Regions from separate parts of the Homo sapiens genome. Here region 1 is linked to region 2. Evidence: fine-mapped expression QTL. A gene starts in region 2. The other region holds a variant in brackets. All regions are shown on one strand. Distances are between the middles of the regions.

What was found. PIP is the estimated chance that this variant, and not a neighbour inherited with it, causes the effect.
Region 1: its variant is fine-mapped to the expression of GRB2 in whole blood (TOPMed, PIP above 0.99).

Annotation. Positions count from the first base shown.
Region 1 is chr17:75,302,800-75,319,899 of GRCh38, forward strand. It overlaps GRB2 (growth factor receptor bound protein 2), which reads right to left. Exons shown (of 6, transcript NM_002086.5): 6 at 15,277-17,100. Among named protein-coding and RNA genes, the nearest start is that of SLC25A19, 22 kb to the left of the region's middle. RefSeq lists enhancers at 13,196-13,345, 13,696-13,945, 16,954-17,093, 17,004-17,100. The variant T/A (reference allele first, on the strand shown) is at 7,970.
Region 2 is chr17:75,399,347-75,409,344 of GRCh38, forward strand. It overlaps GRB2 (growth factor receptor bound protein 2), which reads right to left and starts at 6,332. Exons shown (of 6, transcript NM_002086.5): 1 at 6,143-6,332. MIR3678 (microRNA 3678) reads left to right here and starts at 6,723; the gene lies at 6,723-6,816. It also overlaps the pseudogene RNU6-938P. RefSeq lists a silencer at 6,390-6,569.

The DNA.
Region 1 (17,100 bases), 93 kb before region 2:
GCTGGTCTCAAACTCCTGACCTCAAGTGATCAACCTGCCTCAGCCTCCTAAAGTCCTGGGATTACAGGTGTGAGCCACCGTGCCTGTCCAGGCTGGATATTATATACATTAGCCATGTCTCCCAAAAACCCTAGGAGGCCAACATCACATTCCATCATACTGCTGAGGAAACAAGCTCAGAGGCATCAGCCACCTCGCCCAAGGTCACATAACCAGCAGGATCTGGAGCTAGGACCAAGAACCCAGTTCTGTGGGATTTTTTGTGCACCTCCCCCACTGCCAAATTCATACTTTGAGGCCCTAACCCCACAATGCAATGGTGTTATCAGTTTGTTCTCCCTGCTATAAAATACCTGAGACTTGGTAGTTTATAAAGGAAAGAGGTTTAATTGGCTCATGGTTCTGCAGGATGTACAGGAAACATGGCTGGGGAGGCCTCAGGAAACTTACAATCATGGTGGAAGGTGATGGGGAAGGGACATCTTACACTGCCAGAGCAGGAGAAAGAGAGCGAAGGGAGAGGTGCTATATGCTTTTTTTTTTTTTTTTTTTTTTTTTTTGACACGGTCTCTGTCGCCCAGGCTGGAGTGCAGTGGCATGATGTTGGCTCACTGCAACCTCTGCCTCCCAGGCTCAAGCGATACTCCCACCTCAGCCTCCCAAGTAGCTGGGATTACAGGCGCCTGCCACCACGCCTGGCTAATTTTTGTATTTTTAGTAGAGATGGGGTTTCACCATGTTGGCCAGGCTAGTCTCAAACTCATGACCTCAAGTCATCTCCCCGCCTCGGCCTCCCACGGTGCTGGCCTGGCTGCCCTGTGTTTTGAGATCATGCTCCTCACCCATCTGCACTTTGAGTTCTACAGCTGAGGGGGAGAGGTCTTCTTCCCATGGATTACTTTTCTCAGGCTGCAAAAGTGTTTGGAAGAGCAGCCTTATGGTCAGAAGGCATTTGAAAAACAACTTATATTCCTTACTCACAACAAAATAGTTTTTATTTGTTTTTTTGAGACGGAGTCTCACGGTGTCACCCAGGCTGGAGTGCAGTGGTGCGATCTCGGCTCACTGCAACCTCCGCCTCCTGGGTTCAAGCAATTCTCCAGTCTCAGCCTCCTGAGTAGCTGGGACTACAGGTGCCTGCCACCACACCCAGCTAATTTTTTGTATTTCTAGTGGGGATGAAGTTTCTACATGTTGGCCAGGCTGGTCTTGAACTCCAGATCTTAAGTGATACACCTGCCTCAGCCTCCCAAAGTGCTGGGATTACTGGTGTGAGCCACTGCGCCTGGCCTATTTGCTCCTTTAATGAACTTTCGTCTTCACTAGTGGTCTCAGGACAAGCAGAGCAGGCAGTGGAAGAGCCTTGGAGCTCACCTGGCCATCGGTTTAAATGTGCCATTTAGACATGATTTCTTGAGGCCAGGTGTGGGGGCTTTCACCTGTAGTCCTAGCACTTTGGGAGGCTGAGGCAGGAGAATTGCTTGAGGCCAAGAGTTCAAGATGAACCTGGCCAACATAGCAAGACCCTGTCTCTAAAAAAAGAAAAAAAAAAGACACAATTTTGTCTGTATGAGATCAAATGCCAAACCACTGCACACAGACAAGTAATTCAGTAGGGAAGTGAGATCAACATTTGTACAGAGAAATCAATACCTTCCCATAGACAAATGACAGCTAGCTAGAAAATGGGAGGCCGGGCATAGTGGCTCCTGCCTGTAATCCCAGCACTTTGGGAGGCTGAGGTGGGCAGATCACTTGAGCTCAGGAATTCAAGACCAGCCTGGGCAACATGGCGAAACCCCATCTCTACAAAAAGTACAAAAATTAGGTGGGCATGGTGGTACTTGCCTATAGTCCCAGCTACTCAGGAGGCTGAGGTAGGAGGATTGCTTGAACCCAGAGGGTCGAGGCTGGGATGAGCTGTGTTCACACCACTGTACTCTAGCCTGGGTAACAAAATGAGACCATGACTCAATAAATAAATAAATAGATAGATATAAATTTAAAAACAAAAATAAATAAATTAGCTGGGTGCAGTGGCACATGTCTGTAGTCCTAGCTACATGGAAGGCTGAGGTGGAAGGATCACTTGAGCCCAGGAGGTGGAGGTTTCAGTGAGCCATGATCACACCACTGCACTCCAGCCTGGGTGACAGAGCAAGACCTTATCTCAAAAAAAAAAAAAAAGATGGAAGAAGATAAGGTCTGCTTTAAAATATCAACAAAGATGATAAAATATCTGGGAACAAATGTCACAAGAAACATGCAAAATCTCCATAAGGAAAATGTTCCCAAAGGACATGAAACTGGAAAGACATGGCAAGTCCTCGGATAGGGAGACTCAACATCACAAAACGCCAGTTCTTCTTAGTTTACAAATTTAACATGATCCAAATAAAAACACCAAGAGCCTTTTTTCTGGAAGGAAACAAGCTGATGCTAAAGTTTACATTGAAAATATAAACAAGGCCGGGCGTGGTGGCTCATGCCTGTAATCCCAGTACTTTGGGAGGCTGAGGCAGGCGGATCATGACGTCGTCAGGAGTTCAAGACCAGCTTGGCCAACATGGTGAAACTTCATCTCCTCTCTCTCTTTTTTTTTTTTTTTGAGACGGCGTCTCGCTCTGTTGCTCAGGCTGGAGTGCAGTGGTGCGATCTCGGCTCACTTCAGCCTCTGCCTCCTGGGTTCACGCCATTCTCCTGCCTCAGCCTCCCAAGTAGCTAGGACAATAGGCGCCCACTACCACGCCCAGCTAATTTTTTGTATTTTTAGTAGAGATGGGGTTTCACTGTGTTAGCCAGGATGGTCTCGATCTCCTGACTTGGTGATCCGCCCGCCTCAGCCTCCCAAAGTGCTGGGATTACAGGCATAAGCCACCGCGCCTGGCCGTTTTTTTTTTTTTTTTTGAGACAGAGGCGTGCTTTGTTGCCCAGGCTGGAGTGCCATGGCGTAATCTCAGCTCACTGCAATCTCTGCTTCCTGGGTTCAAGCGATTCTCCTGCCTCAGCCTCCTGAGTAGCTGGGACTATAGGCGTGTGCCATCACACCTGGCTAATTTTTGGATTTTTAGTAGAGACAGAGTTTCACCATGTTGGCCAGGCTCGAACTCCTGACCTCAAGTGATCTGCCCGCCTTGGCCTCCCAAAATGTTGAGATTACAGGTGTGAGCCACCATGCCGGCTGGTGAACCCCGTCTCTACAAAAATACAAAAATTAGCCAGGTGTGGTAGCGGGTGCCTGTAATCCCAGCTACTCGGGAGGCTGAGGCAGGAGAATTTCTTGAACTAGGAAGTCAGAGGTTGCAGTGAGCCGAGATCACGCCATTGCACCCTAGCCTGGGCAACAAAGCGAGATTCCGTCTCCAAAAAAAAAAGAAAGAAAATAAAAGATAAACAAGAAGAGCCAGGACATACTGAGAAGAGCAATGGGAAAAGAATGGCCGATCTGACATCAGAAACTTAGTGTGCCGCACTAGCCCACGGGCAGACTGCAGAGTAACAGAGGCCCAGAAACAGGACCCCAGTATACAGAGGACATGGACACTCATTATACAGAACGCACCTGCTCGCAGGGGGCTGCCGATGGACCTGTGAGTAAATACTATCTGGACAAGCGTGTAGTCATCTGGAAAAAAGGAGAGCTGAATCCATCTCTCACACTGATATCAGGATACCTTTAAACGGATCAAAGATTTAAACAGGCCAGGCGCAGTGGCTCACACCTATAATCCTAGCACTTGGGAGGCCTAGGTGGGTGGATCACTGGAGGTCAGGAGTTCAAGACCAGCCTGGGCAACATGATGAAACCCTGTCTCTACTAAAAAATACAAAAATCAGCCAGGCGTGGTGGTGCATGTCTGTAGTCCCAGCTACTCGGGAGGCTGAGGCAGGAGAATCACTTGAACCCAGGAGGTGGAGGTTGCAGTGAGCTGAGATCGTGCCATTGCCCCTCCAGCCTGAGCAACAGAGCGAGATCCGTCTTAAAAAAAAAAAGAAAGAAAAGAAAATACAGATGGGTGTGGTTGTAATCCCAACACTTTGGGAGGCTGAGGTGAGAGATCACTTGGAGCCTAGGAGTTTGAGACCAGCCTGGGTAACATAGTGAGACCTCATCTCTACAAAAAATATAAAAATTAGCTGGGTGTGGTGGTGTGTTCCTGGAGTCAGCTACTTGGGAGGCTGAGGTGGGAGGATGGCTTGAGCCTGGGAAGTTGAGGTTACAAGAGCTGTAGTTGTGTCACTGCACTGCAGCCTGGATGACAGAGTGACAGCCTGTCTCAAAAAAAAAAAAAACTGTAAAACCAAAAAACAAAAATCTATGAATTATTTTGCACTCGGTAAGAACAGAATAAGAATCATGGATAGGCACAGGGCTGACCAGAAGCTGGCTGAACTCAAAATGATTTACCAGATGTGGGCACTAGCATAGATTAACCCATCTTGTGCTAGTTACTTAATACACCTTATCCTGTGTAATCTTATAACCCACACTCAGCCTAAATTTTTTTTTTTTTTTTTTTTTGAGATGGAGTCTTGCTCTGTCGCCCAGGCTGGAGTGCAGTGGCGCAAACTCAGCTCACCGCAACCTCTGCCTTCTGGGTTCAAGTGATTCTTGCCTCAGCCTCCCAAATAGCTGGGATTATTACTGCATGTTCCACCACACCCGGCTAATTTTTGTGGCTTTTTTTGACAGGCAGTCTCTCTCTGTCACCCAGACTGGAGTGCAATGGTGCAATCTTGGCTCACTGCAACCTCCGCCTCCCAGCTTCAAGCAATTCTCCTGCCTCAGCCTCCCAAGTAGCTGGGATTACAGGCACCTGCCACCATGCCTGGCTAATTTTTGTATTTTTAGTAGAGACGTGGTTTCACCATGTTGGCCAGGCTGGTCTCGAACTCCTGACCTCAAGTGATCCGCCTGCCTCGGCCTCCCAAAGTGCTGGGATTACAGGTGTGAACCACTGCGCCCGGCCAATTTTTGTGTTTTTAGTAGAGACGGGGTTTTACCATGTTGAATAGGCTGGTCTTAAACTGACCTCAAGTGATCCACCCACCTAGGCCTCCCAAAGTGCTGGGATTACAGAATTGAGCCACTGTGCCCGCAGGAGGATGGAGGAAGGGAGGATGGAGGAAGGGAGGATGGAGGAAGGGGGCAGGCAGTTGGGATTTCGAGACTGCAGGGGAGCAAGAGCCCCCTGGGAGCTGATCAGGAAGGGGTTCTCAGGAGATGTGGGGTCTGTAGATCTAGTTCTTATGACAGGCTGGGGATAAGCAGAGAGCAGAGAGGAGGAGCTGAAGGTTAGTTAGAGAGGAGAGGACAGCGGCTGGGGCAGAGGTGGCCTGTGAGTAAATACTATCTGGACAAGCGTATAGCCATCTGGAAAAAAGGAGAGCTGAATCCATCTCTCACACCGATATCAGGATACCTTTAAATGGATCAAAGATTTAAACAGGCCAGGCACAGCGGCTCACGCCTGTAATCCCAGCACTTTGGAGGGCCAGTGCAGGGGGATCGATTGAGCTCAGGAGTTGGAGACCAGCCTGGGCAACATGGTGAAACCCTATCACTACTAAAAATACAAAAATTTAGCCGGACATGGTGGTGTGTGTCTGTGGTCCCAGCTACTTGGGAGGCTGACGTGGTAGGATTGGTTGAGCCCAGGAGGTGGAGGTTGCAGTGAGCTGAGGTTTTGCCTGTGATCTGGGAGAAAGGTAGATGCTGACCAAAGGCAAAGACTCAGAAGGGATTTGGTTGGCCAAAGGCTTGGAGAATTGGACCAGGTGCAGACTGTATGAGATCTTGAATGCCAAGATCCTAATCAGCACCTGTCACGATGTACTTAATCGTTGCAGTTGCAAAACACCCGTGTACATAATCACGTTGGATCCTCAGAGCAACCTAGGGACATTTTCCTTGGTTTGATTTTTAAACAGATGAAGGAATGGGGGTGAGAGGTTAAGGGCCCTGGTCGTGGCCAGGCGCCATGGCTCACGCCAGTAATCCCAGCAATTTGGGAGGCTGAGGTGGGTGGATCACTTGAGGCCAAGAGTTCAAGATCAGCCTGGGCAACACAGCGAAACCCCGTTTCTATTAAAAATACAAACAACCAGCCAGACATGGTGGAACGTGCCTGTAATCCTAACTCGGGAAGCTGAGGTGGGAGAATCGCTTGAACCCGGGAGGCGGAGGTTGCAGTGAGCTGGGATTGCATCACTGCACTCCAGCTTGGGCGATAGAGTCTTGCTCTGTTTCAAAAAAAAAAAAAAAAAAAAAAAGGAAGAAAAAAGGAGAAAAAGGGGGCCCTGGTCACACAGCGAGGAATAAAGGCCCTGGCCTCAGGCCTGCGATCTCATGCTCTTTGTCCTACATCACACTGCTCCTGAGGGGCAGGAGCCTGGACTTTGCCCTCTTTGGACAGGCTGGGGAAAGAGGCAGGGTGGAGAGACAGGAGGAGGTTTTGTGGCAGTGGGGAGAGGGGGACGAAGGGCCGGGACCAGGATGGTACCAGGGAGCATTTCCCTGCAGCCCTGTCCCTGGAGCCCTGTGGCGTCCCTGGTGCTGTGGACTCTTGGCTCACCTCCTGCCGCTCTGGCCTCTCTCCTGTGTGCTTCCTGCCTTCCCCTCGCCCAGCCCTCAGGGCTGTGCTTCCTTATGGGGACTGGAGTATGTGAGGCCTCACCCGTGGCCATGGTTTCAGGGCCACCTCCACACTGACAACACCTGGATCTCGATCTCCTGTCAGATCTGTCTCCTGAGCTCCAGGTGAACACACCCTGCTGCTTTCTAGATGATTGTCCTCAGGCACCTCAAATCCAACCCTCCAGCCTTTCTCTCTGCTTCACCCCACCCTGCCCCTCTTCCCCTAGTTCCCCATCTCAACAAACAAAAGCCACAGATCCCCCCACTGCCCTGCAGCCATCTGGACCTGCCTTTCCCTCCACCCCAGGTCTTCCCAGCTCCTCCTAAATACAGCTCAACGCCCTTGGCCCTCTGCCACTCCCTTCACTGGGACAACATCAGCAGTTTCTTTATTTTTTTTAGACGGAGTCTCACTCTGTTGCCCAGGCTGGAGTGCAATGGTGTGATCTTGGCTCACTGCAACCTCCGCCTCCCGGGTTCAAGTGATTCTCCTGCCTCAGCCTCCTGAGTAGCTGGGACTACAGGCACACGCAACCACGCCTGGCTAATTTTTGTATTTTTAGTAGAGACAAGGTTTCACCATATTGGCCCGGCTAGTCTCAAACTCCTGACCTCTGGTGATCCACCCACCTCGGCCTCCCAAAGTGCTGGGATTACACAGCTGGCTAATTTTTGTTATTTCTTGTAGGGGCAAGGTTTTGCCATGTTGCCCAGGCTGGGGTATATGGTTTCTTTTGGGGTATGACAGTGTTCTAAAATGGATTGTGGTGGCTGGCACAGTGGATCATGTCTGTAATCCCAGCACTTTGGGAGGCCAAGGTGGGAGGGTCGCTTGAGGACAGGAGTTTGAGACCAGCCTGAGCAACATAGTGAGACCCTGTCTCTACTAAAAAACATAAAATAAAATGGATTGTGGTGATGATTGCATAACTGTGAATACTAAAAAACATTGAATAATATACTTTAGATGGGTCACTTAAAAATGTTACATTGATCATATCTCCATAAAACTTTTTTTTTTTTTTTTTTTTGAGACAGAGTCTCGCTCTGTCGCCCAGGCTGGAGTGCAGTGACGCCATCTCGGCTTGCTGCAACCTCTGCCTCCCAGGTTCAAGTGATTCTCCTGCTTTAGCCTCCTGTGCAGCTGGAATTACAGGCGTGGGCCACCATGCCCGGCTAATTTTTGTATTTTTAGTAGAGACTGGGTTTCACCAGGTTGGCCAGGCTGGTTGTGAACTCCTGACCTCAGGTGATCTGGCCCCCTCGGCCTCCAAAAGTGCTGGGATTACAGGCATGAGTCACCATGCTCGGCCTAAAATCTTCAAAAAATTT[T/A]AAAATTCGCTAGGTGTGGTGGTACCACCTGTAGTCCCAGTTCCTTGGGAGATTGAGGTGGGAGGATGGCTTGAGCCCAGGAGTTTGAGGCTGCAGTGAGCTATGATCACACCACTGCACTCCAGGCTGGGCCATGGAGCAAGACTCTTGTCTCTTAAAAAAAAAAAAAAAAATTGGCTGGGTGCGGTGGCTCATGCCTGTAATCCCAGCACTTTAGGAGGCCGAGGAGAGTGGATCACCTGAGGCTGGGAGTTCGAGACCAGCCTGATCAACATGGAGAAACCCCCGTCTCTACTAAAAATACAAAATTAGCCAAGTGTGATGGCTCATGCCTATAATCCCAGTTACTCGGGAGGCTGAGGCAGAAGAATCGCTTGAACCCAGGAGCTGGAGGTTGTGGTGAGCCGAGATTGCACCATTGCACTCCAGCCTGGGCAACAAGAGCAAAACTCCGTCTCAAAAAAAAAAAAAAAAAAAAAAAAAAGGCTGAGCACAGTAGCTCATGCCTGTAATCCCAGCATTTTGGGAGGCCGAGGCAGGCAGATCACTTGAGGTCAGGAGTTCGAGACCAGCCTGGCCAAATTGGTGAAACCCCGTCTCTACTAAAAATACAAAAATTAGGCCACGGGCCAGGCACGGTGGCTCACTCTTGTAATCCCAGCCCTTTGAGAGGCCAAGGCAGGTGGATCACGAGGTCAAGAGTTCAAGACCAGCCTGGCCAGCATGGTGAAACCCCATCTGTACTAAAACTACAAAAAAATTAGCTGGGCATGGTGGCATGCCTGTTGTCCCAGCTACTCGGGAGGCTGAGGCTGAAGAATTCCTTGAACCCGGCAGGCAGAGGTTACAGTGAGCCGAGATTGTGCCACTGCACTCCAGCTTGGGCGACAGAGTGAGACTCCATCTCAAAAAAAAAAAAAAAAAAATTAGGCAAGGTGGCGGGTGCCTATAGTCCCATCTACTCAAGAGGCTGAGGCAGGAGAATCACTTGAACCCAGGAGGCGGAGGTTGGAGTGAGCAGAGATCGTGCCACTGCACTCCAGAGTAAGACTCTGTCTCAGAAAAAAAAAAAAAAAAAAAAAAAAGGCCAAGTGTGGTGGCTTATGCCTTTAATCCCAACACTTTGGGAGGCTGAGGCGGGAGGATCCCTTGAGTGCAGGAGTTCAAGACTAGTCTGGGCAATATAGTGAGACCCCATCTCTGTGAAATTTTTTTTAATTAGCTGGGCATGGTGGTGCGCACGTCCAGCTACTCGGGAGGTTGAGGCGGGAGGATCACTTGAGCACAGGACTTCAAGCAAGCAGTGAGCTATGATCATGCCACTGCACTCCAGCCTGAGACAAAGCAAGACTTCGTCTCAAAAAAAAAAAAAAAAAAAAAAAAAAAAAGACATTCAGAGAGAAATTGGCTTGTCCTATGCAGCTAGGTCTGGAGAGTGGGGTTCGTGCCGAAGAGCCAGCCCCATCTGTAAGGAGATGGCGCAGATGCTGGTCTTACGAAAGCTGTCACTGCTGCTTCCTTCTATTTTAGATGACAAGCAATTCTACTTCCTTTTCCAAAACCTCATATTTTTTTCTTTTCTTTTTTTTTTTTTTGAGACAGAGCTTCACTCTTGTTGCCCAGGCTGGAGTGCAATGGCATGATCTTGGCTCACCGCAACCTCCACCTCCTGAGTTCAAGTGATTCTCCTGCCTCAGCCTCCTGAGTAGCTGGGATTACAGGCATGCACCACCATGCCCAGCTAATTTTGTATTTTTAGTAGAGATGGGGTTTCTCCATGTTGGTCAGGCTAGTTTCAAACTCCCAACCTCAGGTGATCTGTCCGCCTCGGCCTCCCAAAGTGCTGGGATTACAGGCGTGAGCCACCGTGCCCGGCCAAAACCTCCTATTTTTTGCTGGGCCTCTCAAGTTTCTCCCCAGGTCCTATCCCCAGCATTGTCCCTGGATAGGCAGTGTGGCTGCTGTAACAGACAACCCTCCTCCCCCCGTCAGTGATGCAACACAGCTGATATTTGTTTCATTTTTTTGAGACGAGGTCTCGGTCTCTGCTGCCCAGGCTGGAGTGCAGTGGCAGAATCATGGCTCACTGTAGCCTCGACCTTCCAGACTCAGGCAATCCTCCTGCCTCAGCCTCTTTGAGTAGCTGGGACTACAGGAGCACACCACTGAGTCTGTCTAATTTTTTGTAGAGACAGGGTCTCACTATATTGCCAGACTGTTCTCAATCTCTTGGGCTAAAGTGATCCTCCCAAAGTGCTGGGATTACAGGCATGAGCCACTGTGCCCCGCCCCAGACATGTTCCAAATCTAGCAGGTGCTCTGGGTCTTCTGCTGGCTCTCCTGCATCCACCCACAGGCAAGAGAAGCAACAAAGTGGGGAGGCCACAAGGCCCCAAACACACCACACACGTCAGGACTGGAGCACATGGCTGCTTGGAACTGCAGGGAGGTTGGGCACATGGTCCAGACAACTGGTCGGGAGAGAGCCAGGTGAGCACTGCGCACACTCTGCTGCAGAGCCTGACTTCACTCAGCTAACACGACCCTAGCCTCTTCCAGGCTATCCGGATTCTGGTCTCCGCACCACTGCAAGTCAGATGTTCCTAAAACTTATCTTTCATCGTACCGCTGATCTATAAGAGCTACAGAAGCAGCCAGGCATGGTGGCTCACACCTGTAATCCCAGCACTTTGGGAGGCTGGGGCGGGTGGATCACCTGAGGTCGGGAGTTTGAGATCAGCCTGGCCAACATGGCAAAACCCCATCTCTACTAAAAATACAAAAATTAGCTGGGCATGGTGGTGCACACCTGTAATCCCAGCTACTGGAGAGGCTGAGGAAGGAGAATTGCTTGAGCCCAAGAGGCAGAGGTTGCAGTGAGCTGAGATCGTGCCACGGCACTCCAGCCTGGGTGAGTGAGACTCTGTTTAAAAAAAAAAAAAAAAAAAAAAGCTACAGAAGCCTCCTGTGTCAACAGGCAGAATGGGCATCGCTCAGCCTGCATTCGAGTCCCCCACAAACCCCACCTGGGCTCTTTCTTCCTCGTTGCAGGAGGCTACTCAGGCTCCCTCAAGCCATGTCCAGGCAGGTGCTCGCTAACACCGCCACGCCTCTACTAGACCACCTGCTCTGGGTGTCTACTGTCCTATTAGTAACTGTCCAAACTCATTTCACCCAATCCCCAGGGCAAGTCCCATCTGCCTCCAAGCCTCCCTTTGAGCCTGTGCTGTCTACATTTCCTCTTTGAGTCTCTCTCATGCAAGGGCTTGCATAATACAAGGATCAGGACTGAAGAGTGCGTCTGTGTCAAGGACAGAAGGCTCCAGTGGGGCAGTTTCCAGTTTCAGGGTGACTCAGGGCAGCAATGCCACCGTGCAGGAATGGAAAGCGGTGGTTGATGGTGTGAGAAGACACGGGGGCCCTCCTCAGCCTCCAGTTAGAGGGGAGATAATTGCCTCCAATTCCACACGCCCCAGGAATGACGTTCACCATCAATCCCTACAGGTGTGGGCAACACATGTGTAACAGAGTAAATGAAAAAGGGTACACCCTCGCCCCTTGCTTCCCTAGCACAGCGCAGGATGAGGGGTGGGGTTACAGCAGGAGGCAAACATCCACCCTTTCACCCCAGGCTCGGGCCCTTGCACAGGCCTGCAGCACGAGGCGAGCCCTCAGGACCTGGCAGCTGCTATTTTGGAGGCCAACACTGCTGACGCCACGACTCACACTCAGAGAATGGCTGCAATAGCTGTGCTTTCTCAACCCGAATCCAGGAATGTTAAAAAAAAAAAAGGCTGGGGCAGGGCCTGGTGGCTCACGCCTGTAATCCCAGCACTTTAGAGGCCAAGGTGGGCAGATCACGAGGTCAGGAGATCAAGACCATCGTGGCCAACATGGTGAAACCCCATCTCTACTAAAAATACAAAAATTAGCTGGGTGTGGTGGCGGGCGCCTGTAGTCCGAGCTATTCGGGAAGCTGAGGCAGCAGAATCGCTTGCACCCAGGAAGCGGAGGTTGCAATGAGCTGAGATGGCGCCACTGTACTCCAGCAACAGAGCCAGACTCCAACTGAAAAAAAAAAAAGAAAAAAGAAAAAAAGAAGGCTGTCCTTGGAGACCTAAGACCAGTGTTGCTCTTGGGTGGGCCAGAGTTGAGACTTAAAATACGTCTTAGTGATTTCTTTTTTGGACGGGGTATAGTATGGCTTTTAGTGTTAGTTTTAAAAGTAGTGTTTGGAATGCACTAAGCAGTAAGTGGCTTAATCAATATCACTAACATGTAATATTGATCTATCAGTGCTGTTGGCACACAGAATTGTACTCTTTTTTTTTTGAGACGGAGTCTCACTCTGTCGCCCAGGCTGGAGTGTGATGGCGCGATCTCGGCTCACTGCAACCTCTGCCTCCCGGGTTCAAGCGATTCTCCTGACTCAGCCTGCCGAGTAGCTGTGATTACAGGTGCCCGCCACCACGCCCACCTAATTTTTGTATTTTTAGTAGAGACAGGGTTTCACCACGTTGGCCAGGCTGGTCTTGAACTCCTGACCCCAGGTACAAAAATTAGCTGGGCGTGGTGGCAGGAGCTGGTTATCCCAGCTACTTAGGAGGGTGAGGCAGGAGAATCACTTGAACCCGGGAGGTGGAGGTTGCAGTGAGCCAAGATCGTGCCACTGCATTCCAGCCTAGGGGACAGACGGAGACTCTGTCTCAAAAAAAAAAAAAAGAAAAAAAAAGTATTTCCAAGACGCATAAAACAGGTCCACTGTCATTTTTTCCAGTTATCCAGGAACTTCCATAAAGCGAACGTTTTGGGCTGAAGGTCACCCACCCCATGAACAGTCAGGTGGAACTAGTGCCCAGGGAAGGCAGGCAGCCTGCGCCATCATGGCCTTTGGCTCAGAGGCCACCTAAGCAGCCCCGCGCTGTGGGTCACCATCTCCTCCACACTCAAGTCTGAAGGTGAGCCTGTCAGGGGCTCCCAGCTCACTGGGTGGAGGGAAGCGTGTCAGGGAGGGGTGGGGGGGGCGTGCCCTGAAGAGCGAGGCCATGCGCCTACCTCCAGCTTTTCCCCTGACACACTGAGCGACTCCCGGCTGCACGCCGGCCACAGGGCTCCTGTAAGATGCTGGGAGGCTTCCCAAGGCACCCCGCCCAGATGTCTTCCCAGGAATCCCGGATCCCTGAGGAGGGAGATACCATCACTAAGAAATCTGTGACCAAACTGCTGATCACAGAAAAGGAGTGATTTTCCCATTAATTCTGAAACAGTCAGTCAAACGCGAGGGAGGGGACAAATTGAGCAAAAAGCCTCAAATGAGGCTAAATGAGTCACCACGCCCGGCCTTTTCAATTACATAGCTCCATTTTGTAAACTTCTGCTCAGCTTCAAGGAGGCCAGCCCAAGTGGACCACAGGACTAGCAGTCTTGACTCTTGCTGGGTCAAGATCCTTCCCACACATGACTGCTGCAGGGGAAGGTCAAAAACGTCCCAGGCCAGGCACAGCTCACGCCTGGATTTCCAGCACTTTGAAAGGCCAAGGGTGGGGGGATCTCTTGAGCCCAGGAGTCTGAGACCAGCCTGGGAAACACAGACCCCACTGTACAAAAAAAAATGAAATTAGCCAGGTGCAGTAGCGTATGCCTGTAGTCCCAGCTACTTGGGTGCAGTAGCGTATGCCTGTAGTCCCAGCTACTTGGGTGCAGTAGTGTATGCCTACAGTCCCAGCTACTTGGGAGGCTGAGGTGATCACTTGAGCCCAGGGGATTGAGTCTGCAGTGAGCTATGATTGCACCGTAGCACTCCAGCCTGGGTGGCAGATAAAGACCCTGTCACAAAACAAAACAACCCACAAGCCTCCCCTGCTCAGTGTGGCTACACCAAGAAGAATTCAAGTCGAGATTTCTTGGGTATTTTTTTTTTTTTTTTGAGAGAGGTCTGTCTCTCAGGCTGGAGTATAGTGGCATGACAGCTCACTGCAACCTCCACTTCAGCCTCCTGAGTAGCTGGGACCACAGGTGTGCATCACCACACTCAGCTAATTTTTGGTAGAGATGGGTTTCACTATGTTGCCCAGGCTGGTGTGGCATTCTTGAGCTCAAGCAATCCACCCGCCTCAGCCTCTCAAAGTGTTAGGATTACAGGCGTAAGCCACTGAGCCTGGCCCTTATTACCTTTATTTTTTATTTTATTTTATTTTTTTGAGAGGGAACCTAGCTCTGTCACCCAGGCTGGAGTGCAGTGGTGCAATCTCGGCTCACTGTAACCTCCACCTCCCGGGTTCAAGCGATTCTCCTGCCTCAGCCTCCCGAGTAGCTGGGACTACAGACACCTGCCACCACAGCTGGCTAATTTTTGTATTTTTAGTAGAGATGGGGTTTCACCATGTTGGCCAGGCTGGTCTTGAACTCCTGACCTTGTGATTCACCCGCTTCAGTCTCCCAAAGTGCTGGGATTACAGGTGTGAGCCACCCTGCCTGTCCCCTTTTTATTACTTTTTCGAGACAAGGTCTCACCCTGTTGCCCAGGCTGGAGTGCAGTGGTGCAACCACAGCTCACTGTAGTCTTGACCTCCTGGGCTCAAGTGATCCACCTCAGCCTCCCAAGTAATCCTCACTACAGGCGTGCGCCACTGCATCTGGCTAATTTGCTTTTTGTAGAGAGGCAGGGAGTCTCCCTATGCTGCCCAGACTGGCCTCAAAACTCCTGGGCTCAAGTGATCCCCCACCTTGGCCTCTCAAAGTGCTGGGATTACAGGCATGAGCTACCATGGCCAGACCTCATTTCTTTTTTGTTCAGTCTTCTTTGCCTCTGTAGCCAACGTGTGTGTAAATATGCCTAGTCTCACCCTAAAAGCAGCCTATTGAGCAAACAAGTATATTTCAGTTACTCAGCATATTAAAACCGTTTCTTCACAGGTGTTTCTGTCCTTCTTCTTGTTTAACACAGAAAACAGGAGAACCAAATAAGCCAAGCTCTTTATCTTCCCAAAGCCCTTGGTCTAGACCAGAGTTCCCAAAGCGTGGTCAGTGGTTTCTCTACATCAGAAACAGCGGGCGTGTCTGTGTCCTCAAAGGCAATGTCCGAGGATGTGGGGCGGGGTTTGCGATTCTGTATTGTTAACAGGCTCCCCAGGAGTTCCTGACAGCCAACTGCAGGCATCGCTCCCAGGAAGGCCTGTGAGCCCCACATGCTCCCCTAGGGGGATGTAAGCTGGGTGATCACGTCTGAAATAAGGACCCAAGATTCCTGACTCCCCGATGCGGTTTTTAAATTTTTAAGGCAGGCAAGGGGAAAAAAAGATACCAAGTGAAGAATTCATTGTGTATTTATTATTCACAGTTAATCACTACCTACCAAATGCTATCCGCAGAGTTAAAGGATTAAGTACATAGGTCTTTATTTAAACACTGATTTTTTTTTTAAATATATACACACAAAACTTAGTTCAGCAAGGCTTCATGATATACACCAATTCCAAAATAAAACAATCAAATGGTCCAGGTGTAGAATGCCAGATTCCTTTTATCATCTGCGAGGAAAAGAGAAGCAGGATGAGGAAGAGTGAGGGAAGGCGGGGACAGGCTCTGCCCAGAAGAGCTGCCGCCTCCTGGCACAGCAAACGCTCCAGGCCTGGGCCCTGTTCATATCTGGAGTCGGAGGGAGACTCCCATCGGCCGCTTTGGGACTGAAAGGCCCAAGGCTGTCACCAGCTCCCGGAAGAGAGGGAGGCAGTCTTGTTTTTGTCGTGGGAAGGGGTTTGGGTGGAGAAAAAGATTACAGGCACATCACCACAGGGGACCAGAAGTGGAGAGAAGACAGAGAGTTCTGCCGAGGCCTTGGTCTTCCTGTCTTTCCAATCTTGCCTTCCCCAACTCTCCCTGCTTCCTGGGACCATCGGTAGGGGTGGGGAGCAGCAGTCAACACAGCCCACTGGGAAGGGAGGCACAAGCAGCACTCCAGCTTCCCAGTGCTGCCCTCACACTCACCTGGACAGGTCAGGGGACACAGGATGAAAGCCATGGCCCAATCTAAGAGCAAGACAAGTGAAAAGTGAGTACTCTCACTGTGTACCCCAGCATAGGAATAGTGAAACCTGCTACAACTGGAGGCTGCGTTCCCATGACTTCCTCCTCCGCTCTCCTTGTCTGGGACTTGCTGGTTCCAGGGGTGCATATAGGGAGGGGGCGGGGGCCACAACCCCCGAGACGGTGAGGACAGGCTTCCGACCCCCCTGTAAGCCAGATCCAGTGGGATGTGGGAGAGCTGGGCGGTCACCTTCCCTCTTGCCCCGGTGGCCCATCACACTCACACTGCACCCTGGGCAAGCAGTTCCCTGAACCCCCAAGGGGCTCACAACCCTTAAAGCTGGAGCTTAAAGCCTCCTGGCTTAGTACAAGCAGGAGAACGCCTCACCTTCCACTCCTGCTTTGTCTCCTTTGCTCTACCCTGGCTCCCCTGCCCGGAGGGAAAAATATTTACACAGAGTAGGAGACAAATTGGCTGAAAAGCTCTGGACTGCCTTTAACTTATTTTAAAACAAAACAAATTAAAAAAAAAAAAAAAACACCACTCAGAAGCAACCCTTGAAATAAGGAAAAAGGCACTATGAAAAAACAACATGCTCGATAATCCCACTGGAAGGGCCAACAAAGTGGAAAGAGACAGGCTTTCAGGTGGGCTTTTTTTTTTTTTTTTTGAGACGGAATCTCGCTCTGTCACCCAGGCTGGAGTACAATGGCACGGTCCCGGCTCACTCAACCTCCACTTCCCAGGTTCAAGCGATTCTCCTGCCTCAGGCTCCCAAGTAGCTGGGACTACAGGTGCGTGCCACACCCGGCTAATTTCTTATTTTTAGTAGAGACGGGGTTTCACCATGTTGGCTAGGTTGGTCTCGAACTCCTGACCTTGTGATCCGCCCACCTTGGCCTCCCAAAGTGCTGGGATTACAGGCGTGAGCCACCGCGCCCAGCCCAGGTGGGCTTTCTCAGGAAGCCATGGAAGCAGAGACATGCTTTCCTTCTACCCTACTCTACTGTGAACTTGGACAAAATACACTGGGGGTCTGGGCTGGAAGGCAGATTCCTACAAGTCCCCTCCTCTGGAGGAAGCTAAACAGCAAAGGCATCGAGCG
Region 2 (9,998 bases):
CCTGGCCTTGACAATCTTTTCTTTTTTTTTTTTTTTTTTGAGATGGAGTCTCGCTTTGTCACCCAGGCTGGAATGCAGTGGCACGATCTTGGCTCACCACAACCTCTGTCTCCTGGATTCAAGCCATTCTCCTGCCTCAGCCTCCCAAGTAGCTGGGATTACATGCCCCCACCACCACGACTGACTAACTTTTGTATTTTTAGTAGAGGCAGGGTTTCACCATGTTGGTCAGGCTGGTCTTGAACTCCTGACCTCGTGATCCACCCGCCTTGGCCTCCCAAAGTGCTGGGATTACAGGCCGTGAGCCACCGCGCCCGACCAACAATTATTTATTTATTTTTTTGAGACAGAGTCTCGCTCTGTCGCCCAGGCTGGTGTAGTGACGCAATCTTGGCTCGCTGCAAGCTCCGTCTCCCAGGTTCATGCCATTCTCCTGCCTCAGCCTCCCGAGTGGCTGGGACTATAGGTGCCCACCACCACACCCGGCTTATTTTTTTGTATTTTTAGTAGAGACATGGTTTCACCATGTTAGCCAGGATGGTCTCGATCTCCTGACCTCGTGATCCGCCTGCCTCAGCCTCCCAAAGTGCTGGGATTACAGGCATGAGCCACCGTGCCCGGCCCTGACCGACAATTTTGAAATATTAATACATACTCTTTTTTTTTTTGAGACAGGGTCTTGCTCTGTCACCCAGTCTGGAGTGCAGTGGGTGCCATCTTGGCTCACTGCAGCCTTGACCTCCCAGGCTCAGGCCATCCTCCCGCCTCAGCTTCCCAAGTAGCTGGGACTACAGGTGTGTGCCACCACACCTGGCTAATTTTTGTAAATACATACTCCTTTTTTTGAGATGGAGTCTTGCTCTGTCACCCAGGCTGAAGTGCAATGGCACGATCTCAGCTCACTGCAATCTCCGCCTCCTGAGTTCCAGCAATTCCCCTGCCTCAGCCTCCCAAGTAACTGGGACTATAGGCGTGCACCACCATGCCTGGCTAATTTTTGTACTGTTAGTAGAGATGGGCTTTCACTAGGTTGGCCAGGCTGGTCTCAAACTCCTGACTTCAGGCAATCCACCAGCCTTGGCCTCCCAAAGTGCTGGGATTACATGCATACCACCATACCCAGCCTCATGCTCCTTTTTTCTTTCTGAGACAGAGTCTCGCTCTGTTGCCCAGGCTGGAATGCAGTGGTGTGATCTCATCTCACTGTAACCTCCACCTCCTGCGTTCAAGCGATTCTCCTTGCCTCAGCCTCCCAAGTAGCTGGGATTCCAGGCGTGTCACCACCACCTAATTTTTGAATTTTCTTTTTTTGTGTGTTTGTGTGTGTTTTTAATGTTTGTATTTTCAAATAAAGACGAGGTTTCACCATGTTGGCCAGGCTGGTCTCCAACCTCAAGTGATCCGCCCACCTCGGCCTCCCAAAGTTCCAGGGTGACAGGCGTGAGCTACTGTGCCTGACCAATACATACTCTTGACCAAGCAATTCCACTTCCCAGATTTATCTCACTGAAACAATGAGACAAAATACAATGTGCAACATACACATATACACCCACACCCTTGATCAATATCCATGAGCTTGTGTATGGAGTATCTACATAAATACCAGGATATATCAATTTTTTTTTTTTTTTGAGACGGAGTCTTGCTCTGTCGCCCAGGCTAGAGTGCAGTGGTATGATCTCTGCTCAAAGCAACCTCCACCTCCCGGGTTCAAGCCATTCTCCTCAAATTTTTAAAGCTGCAGAAAAATTATAGTTTATCCTATTTCTGTAAGGCAAAATAATACATCAGTATGTGCTTAAAAAAAAAGGCTAGGCCGGGCGCAGTGGCTCACGCCTGTAATCCCAGCACTTTGGGAGGCCGAGGCGGGTGGATCACGAGGTCAGGAGATCGAGACCATCCTGGCTAACAAGGTGAAACCCCGTCTCTACTAAAAATACAAAAAATTAGCCGGGCGCGGTGGCGGGCGCCTGTAGTCCCAGCTACTCGGGAGGCTGAGGCAGGAGAATGGCGTGAACCCGGGAAGCGGAGCTTGCAGTGAGCCGAGATTGCGCCACTGCAGTCCGCAGTCCGGCCTGGGCGACAGAGCGAGACTCCGTCTCAAAAAAAAAAAAAAAAAAAAAAGGCTAACAATGGTTATCTCTGCTAGCGAGATCACAGAACACTTTTACTTTCTGCATGATACACCTCAATTGTATTTTCATTATTTTTACAATAGGCATGTGTTACTTTTGTAGTTACAACACAAACCAAAAAGCTTACTGACGCTCTGGAGTTAGACTTGGATTCAAATGTCACTTTCCACTTACTAATGAGGGGACACTGGAGAAGTAACTTATACTCTGTAATCCCTAGTATCCCTTAACTGGAAAATGGGAATAATAACAGCCAACTACCTTATAAAGTCATTTTGATAATTAAAAGAGATAATGGTTGTAAAATGCTTGGCAGAAGTCTCTGGCTCTCTCCAAAAGACTGAGCTAACTAATTATCCACTATAGTGTGGGCTGTGATGATTTTATTATTATAATGTAGTATAAGCCAGAGACCTTAACTAGTATTTTCAGTCTCTTTTCAAATACTAGCCTACATGTTCTAAGAGTAAATGTGGAGCTTCCATCTGCATAGGCAGATATCCTGATGAAACCATCATCAGTTGAAAATATTGTTACATGGAAATGCATTTTAATACACCTAACCTACCAAACACCACAGCTTAGCCTAGCCTACCTTACCTTAAATGTGCTCCAAACACATTAGCCTACAGTTAAGCAAAATCATCTAACACAAAGCCCATTTTATAACAAAGTGATGAATATCTCCTGTAATTTACTGACTATGGTACTGAGAGTGAAAAACAAAACAGTTATATGGGTACTGGAAGTATAGTTTTTACTGAGCGCTATTGCTTTCACACCACTGTAAAGCTGAAAAATCTTTCGTCTGAGTCTACAGACTCAGAAGAATTCTCTGGTAGGCAAATTAATGACCCTATTAAGTATAAATTTCAAGTTAAATCACTCCACATCACAGTATTAAGAATGCTAAAAAATTTACACATGTAAAAATGAATCATGCTTATAGTCACTCATTCCATTAGGCTATTCTAAATACTGACTTTGTGTATACACAGAAAAATGTAATTTTAAGTTGAATTACTTAAAGCCACACAGCAGTCTTATTATTTATGGCTGCATTTGGTAACAACAGTTTTGATCCTTAGACCATCTGTATCAAAATCCACCCATTCAGAGACTGATTCACTGTGGGGTACATCCTGGAGTTCTACCAGAACCTAATTTTAAAAAGATCTCCCAGTGATTTTTATGGATACTAAATTTTAAATAACTGCTATACCATAAGGATGCCTTAACCAGATTTTAAAATTTGCATTCCAGATAATGCACTACAATGTCCTTGCATGAAATGAAAATAATGCATATTGGCCGGGCGCGGTGGCTCACGCCTGTAATCCCAGCACTTTGGGAGGCTGAGGTGAGTGGATCACCTGAAGTCGGGAGTTCCAGACCAGCCTGACCAACATGGAGAAACCCTGTCTCTACTAAAAATACACAATTAGCCAGGCGTGGTGGTGCATGCCTGTGATCCCAGCTACTAGCGAGGCTGAGGCAGAAGAATTGCCCGAACCCAGGAGGTGGAAGTTGTGGTGACCTGAGATCGTGCCACTGCACTCTAGCCTGGGCAACAAGAGCGAGAATCTGTCTCAAAAAAAAAAAAAAAGGAAAAAGAAAATAATGCGTATTCACTTGGCACAACTAGGAAAAAGGCAACTTTGACCAAAAAAAATATATATATATATAAATATATATATATATACAGACTCTCAAAAGCCATTCAGTAATGGTGGAGAGTTCCTCTGAATTAAGCAAGTATTAATTTCTCTCCGGAGGGCATGGTGACTCTCTATTCTGTATTACTTCATTTCTCCAAAATCCATTCCTCTTCTGTTGTATGTGTAACAATTAGAACTCTGATGGACAACATGCAACATGATAACAGCAATTACTGAGAAGAATCTCTAAGTACCATCAACCAGTAGTATTTAAAACCCAGCAAGCCTCTCAAATCTGAATAACTTGCTGACGAAGTAAAGTGCCTCAAACATTTAAACGTTTGAGTTCAGGCCGGGCGCAGTGGCTCATGTCTGTAATCCCAAGGCTGAGATGGGCAGATCACTTGAGGTCAGGAATTCGAGACCAGCCTGGCCAACATGGTGAAACTCTGTCTTTACAAAAATACAAAAATTAGCCAGGTGTGGTGGTGAGCACCTGTAATCCCAGCTACTCGGGAGTGCGAGGCAGGAGAATCGCTTAAACCCAGGAGGTGGAAGCTGCAGTGAGCCGAGATCGCACCACTGCACTCCAGCCTGGGCGACAGAGCGAGACTCCGTCTCAAAAAAATAAAATAAATAAATAAATGCTTGTGTTTAGTAGAAGAAAGCTGATTATAAGAATTAACTCTGGCCGGGCGCGGTGGCTCACGCCTGTAATCCCAACACTTTGGGAGGCCAAGGCGGGTGGATTACCTGAGGTCAAGAGTTCAAGACCAACCTGGGCAACACAGTGAAACCCCATCTCTACTAAAAATACAAAATTCGCTGGACATGGTGGTGGGCGCCTGTGATCCCAGCTACTCGGGAGGCTGAGGCAGGAGAATCGCTTGAACCCAGGAGGCAGAGTTGCAGTGAGCCCATATAGCACCATTGCACTCCAGCCTGGGCAAAAAGAGCAAAACTCTGCCTAAAAAAAAAAAGTCACTGAGCTGACCCAATCTTCCTATTATAAAGACATACTAGAAGAAAACATAAGCAGGCACAGAAGCATAATCTTAAAAGAAAAAGAGTAAAAGACAAAAATAATACAAGCAAACCACACTTGCGACCTAGTGGCAGGACTGATTTCTTAGGGATGAATTCAATCTTTTGAGCCTCCCCGTTCTCAGAGAGGGGACTTCAGCCTCCCACGGCTCTCTAGCAACCCTTCTGGCTGACTGCAGGGAACGCAGGGGACGCGCAAAAGTAAAGGAACGAAAGCAAGGAAAGAGAGTCTCTTCCCGAGGAAAAAGACGGAATCTTGAAATGAGAGAAAACGAACAGCACGAAAGGGAAGAAACCTCGAAAAATTACGCCAGAGTGGGGACTACAAGGAGGAAGGGGAAGTACATTAGAAAAAAAGGGGGGGGTGGGGGGAGGAAGGGGCAAATGACTTGCATTACACAAGCATTTCGTGTCCCTAGTGGAAAGGACAGAAGCAGATAGAGAAGGAAGGAAATAACTGGAGAAAGAGGAGTAAGAAAGCCAAAATAGACTAATGCTAATTTCTCTCATGTGTCTGACATTTCGGAAAGTCAACAGCATCAAAAAGAGACAGACCTCAAGTGCACTTCAGTCCCCTGCAAACTGCACTTTCACAGCGTTTGAAGCCAGCCTTGAAAAACTTTCTAAACAAGCCATAACTCATGTGTGGCTTACAATCATAGAGAGGGCGCGCTGCAAATGAAAATTACCAGCGCCCGCTCTCGCCGCAATCCTTCCTCGGTGCAGTCCAACCTGCTACTGCTGAATTTTTCTTGACAAATATTTTTCAAATAGTTTTTTTTTTTAAGTGTCAGAATAAAGGTATCTCCCCCGGCTCCAGCAGCAAACGTTCCACCCCAAAGTGGATTCCCGCACAAAATTAAGCCCAAAGACGCCAGGAGATGGTGACGTGGTTGCCGTGCAGGTCGAAGGCACATCAATCACCACAGCTGCAGCCCACACCAGTCCCCCGCCGCCAGGCTCGGGTAGACTGACTCGGTCGGCGTTCGGCCCGCCTGGGCTTCCCGGGCCCCTTCCGTGCAAACCCTCCCGATGAAGGCAGGGGACCTCGCCAGAGAACCCCGACCTCTTCCCCCGGACTGCCCAGAGCCAAGAGCCGGAGGAGGACGGTCCCCAGGAAGGAAGCGCCCCAAAAGGGGAAACGTAGAGTCCGGAGCCCCGGGGATTGCGCTCCACGTCCCAAGCCTCGCCGCCCCGACGCGAACCCCGGGGCCGGTCCCGGTTCCCCCGGGGCCCACTCCCGCTGTAGAGCCAAGAGGAAAAGGCACGAGAGAGGCGCCGAGCGCAGCCTCCCGTACTCACCGTGGCGCAGCTGCTCCGCTCAGCGTCCGGCCCGCCCCTCCACAACGCTGCGAGCGGCCGGCGACCCCAAGGCTGCTCTGCGAGGGCAGCGCTTGCTCCCGCCGCCGTCACCGCCACAGGCACAGACTCTGCCACAGCCGCCGCCGCCGCTGCCGCCGCCCGGTCGCCGAAGCAGCAATACCTCCTGGCTTCCGCTCCCCGTCGGTGTCCCGCGAGAACTTCTCCACGAGGCCCCGCCCCGCCCCCGCGAGACTTCCCCCGGCGGAAAAGGCCCAGAGCGCAAGCGCTCCTCCTCAGCCGGGCCCCTGCGGGTAGGGAACCAGCTAGGTGTCAGGGCGCATGCGCCAGACCTCCCCGCAGCAGGTGGCCTCCGCACGGCTCCGCCCCCGGGTCGCCGTAACCCTCTCGGTGCCAGAGCGGGTAAATGACAGCTTAGCCCTGAAGGACTCTTCCCCCGTCTAATCACTTTATTTTCCTCTTCTACCAAACCTAGGCAGTTGGATGGGTAGGGGCTTGGGGGAGGAAGAGATCTTCCAGAATGAAGCACTCCAAATAGAGGACCAGGTCTTAAAATATTTGAGAATCCGGTCCGTACAAACTCTGCTGTGTTGAATGATTGGTGAGTTTGTTTGCTCATTGATTGAATCACTGCAGAGTTTGTACGGACCGGATTCTCCAATATAGGCCGAACACTGTGCTGGGGATAGAACAGAAATCTTGGCCCTTAAGGAATTCACGGTCTAGGAAGTAGAAGAAAAATAAACAAATAATGCCATAAGTACTGTTATAATTATTTGGAGTTTGCTGAGGAAGCTAAAAAAATGGAGGGGGTACTGCTACACTGCCCATTGCAGAAGAGCCTTCACAGATGTGATGCGGCGATGTCTGATCTGAGTCTTGGAGGATGAGTAGGAATTTGCCAGGCAGAGAAGCCAGAGTAAGGGCATTTCAGGGAAAGGGAATGGCACGTAAGTACAGAGGCTAAGTACAGAGGAACGGAGGCGTGAGAGAGAAAGTCGTGTTCTGTGCAGTGCTAAGTAGTTCAATTCCTGTATGAGGCCGGTGAGTACGGGGGAGTGGCAGAAGATGAGGCTTGGAGAAATAATTCTTATTTTTCAGTTCCCAAAGCTCTTCCAATTAAAGGATAGAACACAACACACCTAGCGTTACTGTGCCTTCTGGAAGCCAACAAAATAGCGCTGAGGTGAGAATAACCAAGCATCTGATTCTATAGAGAAAAGAAGCCCATTGAAACACAGAAAATGAATTGTGCTTTCACCAAGTATTTATTGAGCATCACCTGTGTGCAAGGGGCTCTGCAGGGTCAAAGACCAACCAGATGAAGCCCCTGCTTTCAGTGCTTTGTAATCTAGAGTTGCCTAATCTGTAAGACAAGCAGTTGGCCCCAAGTGCCACTGAACTACACATAGGGATGGCTGAGGAGGGAGCCAGTACTTGGTGCTGAGCTAATCAAGAAGGATTTGGTTTGAACGGCAAAGTGAAAGCAGGGAGGAAAGAGGAAAGAGTAATGGAATCAGCCTTTTGTTTTTTTTTTTTTTTTTTTTTTTTGAGACGGAGTTTTGCTCTTGTTGCCCAGGCTGGAGTGCAATGGTGCGCGATCTTGGCTCACCGCAAGCTCCGCCTCCCGGGTTCAAGGGATTCTCCTGCCTCAGCCTCCCGAGTAGCTGGGATTACAGGCATGTGCCACCACACCCAGCTAATTTTGTATTTCTAGTAGAGATGGGGTTTCTCCATGTTGGTCAGGCTGGTCTCAAACTCCTGACCTCAGGTGATCCGCCCACCTTGGCCTCCCAAAGTGCTGGGATTACAGGCGTGAGCCACCATGCCTGTTTTTTTGGTTTTTTTTTTTTTTTTGAGACTTGCACTGTTGCCCAGGCTGGAGTGGAGTGCAGTGGCATGATTTTGGCTCACTGCAACTTCCGCCTCCTGGGTTCAAGCATTCTCTCACCTCAGCCTCTCAAGTAGCTGAGATTACAGCAGCCTGCCACCACACCCAGCTAATTTTTGTATTTTTAATAGAGACAGGGTTTCGCCATGTTGGCCAGGCTGGTCTCGAACTCCTGACCTCAGGTGATCCACCTGCCTCAGCCTCTCAAAGTGCTGGGATTACAGATGTGAGCCAACACTCCTGGCCATCAACCAATGTTTTTGATTAGTCCAAGCCCCAGTAATTGGGGGGAAGAGTGATGAGAGAGAGGGGCCAAAATGCAAAATGCATGGCTTAGGTGTCATAGTCAAGTGATGGGCAACCTCTGAAGGTTTCTGAGCAGGAGGTGTCTGATATGAGGTGAAAATAAGAAAAGGACCCTCTATTTACCACTTGATGCATACTTAAGTCATAGCGCCTCCACAGGGTGGGTAATATCCCCATTTTACAGACTTGGAAACTAAGCCTTAGAGAGGTTAGTAATTTACCCAAGGAAGCCAAAATATAGTAGACCTAAGATTTGGACTAAGGCCTGTCTTGTTCTAAAATCCTCATTTTTTTCCCGCACTATGCCACTTTGTTCTAAAATAGCAGTCAGAAAAAAATAGAAATGGAAGGGAGGGACTTAGCTGCTAAGCAGAGAGGAAGACATGAGGGAAGAATTGCAGTTTTTTGTTTTGAGTGGGCCTGGATAACAGGGAGAACACAGAAATTTGCCAGTCAAGAGGCATAGCTGACTGGAGGGGGCAGGCACAGAGAACAGGGAAGGGCAGGTGAGGAGATGATTGTAAGGGTGAAGGGAATTTTTCCCTTCCACTCTGACAGTTTGAGTCTGCTGAAATAAACTGGCAATAGATTAACAGGAGAAAGCACATACAAATTTACTGACATGCAGTGTGCATGGTTACCATACAGAATATGAGACTCAGAGAAGAGCCAGGTGGCTGAAGCTTAAAGAGCACCATCTTTGCAGAGGAGAGGGAGATGAGCGGAGGTCAGCAATACTGAAAGGTAGTCAACTATTTTTAGGGAAAAGGAATGAGCCCAAACAATGCCTGGGACAAAGTTCCTCTGAGCTCTGGGAGCTGGAGGTTGTGACAAATTTCAGGAAGGTGAGGTGCAGGACTTCACTGTAAATAAAGGTTGTCTTATTATGCAGATAAAGTCTCCTAAATAATCTCAGCTGTCCTCAGGAGAATAGATGAAAAGTCTGTTTGGATGTGGTGACAACTTTTAGTCTTTTCTCTTCTCTGGTAGTTAATATTTCCTGGTTATTTGACGAGAGTCCTAGGGAGGAAATTTTAAGACAGTCGCATCTATTTTTTTTCTTTTCTTTTCTTTTTTTTTTTTTTGAGATGTAGTTTCACTCTTGTTGTCCAGGCTGGAGTGCAATGGCGTGATCTCAGCTCACCGAAACCTCCACCTCCCAGGTTCAAGTGATGCTCCTGCCTCAGCCTCCAGAGTAGCTGGCATTACAGGCATGCACCACCACGCCCGGCTAATTTTGTATGTTTAGCAGAGATGGGGCTTTTCCCTGTTGGTCAGGCTGGTCTCGAACTCCCGACCTCAGGTGATCCGCCCGCCTTGGCCTCCCAAAGTGCTGGGATCACAGGCGTGAGCCACCACACCTGCTCTTTTTCTTTCTTTCTTTTTTAATGGATCCCTTCACAGATTTGCATGTCTTCTTGCTCAGGGGCTATGCTAATCTCTGTATCATTCCAATTTTAGTATATGTGCTGCCAAAGCAAGTACACAATTGAATTTCTTTTGGTTTCTCAGTCAGCTAAGGGAACTTTCAGACAGCCCCTGCATGCATGTGGGGTGGTGAAACAAGACTTTAAAAAGTCCTTGGTTCTGAGGCAGCTTGTAAGTCCTTCCAATTTCCTTTCATTCAAAAGTGCTCAGAAT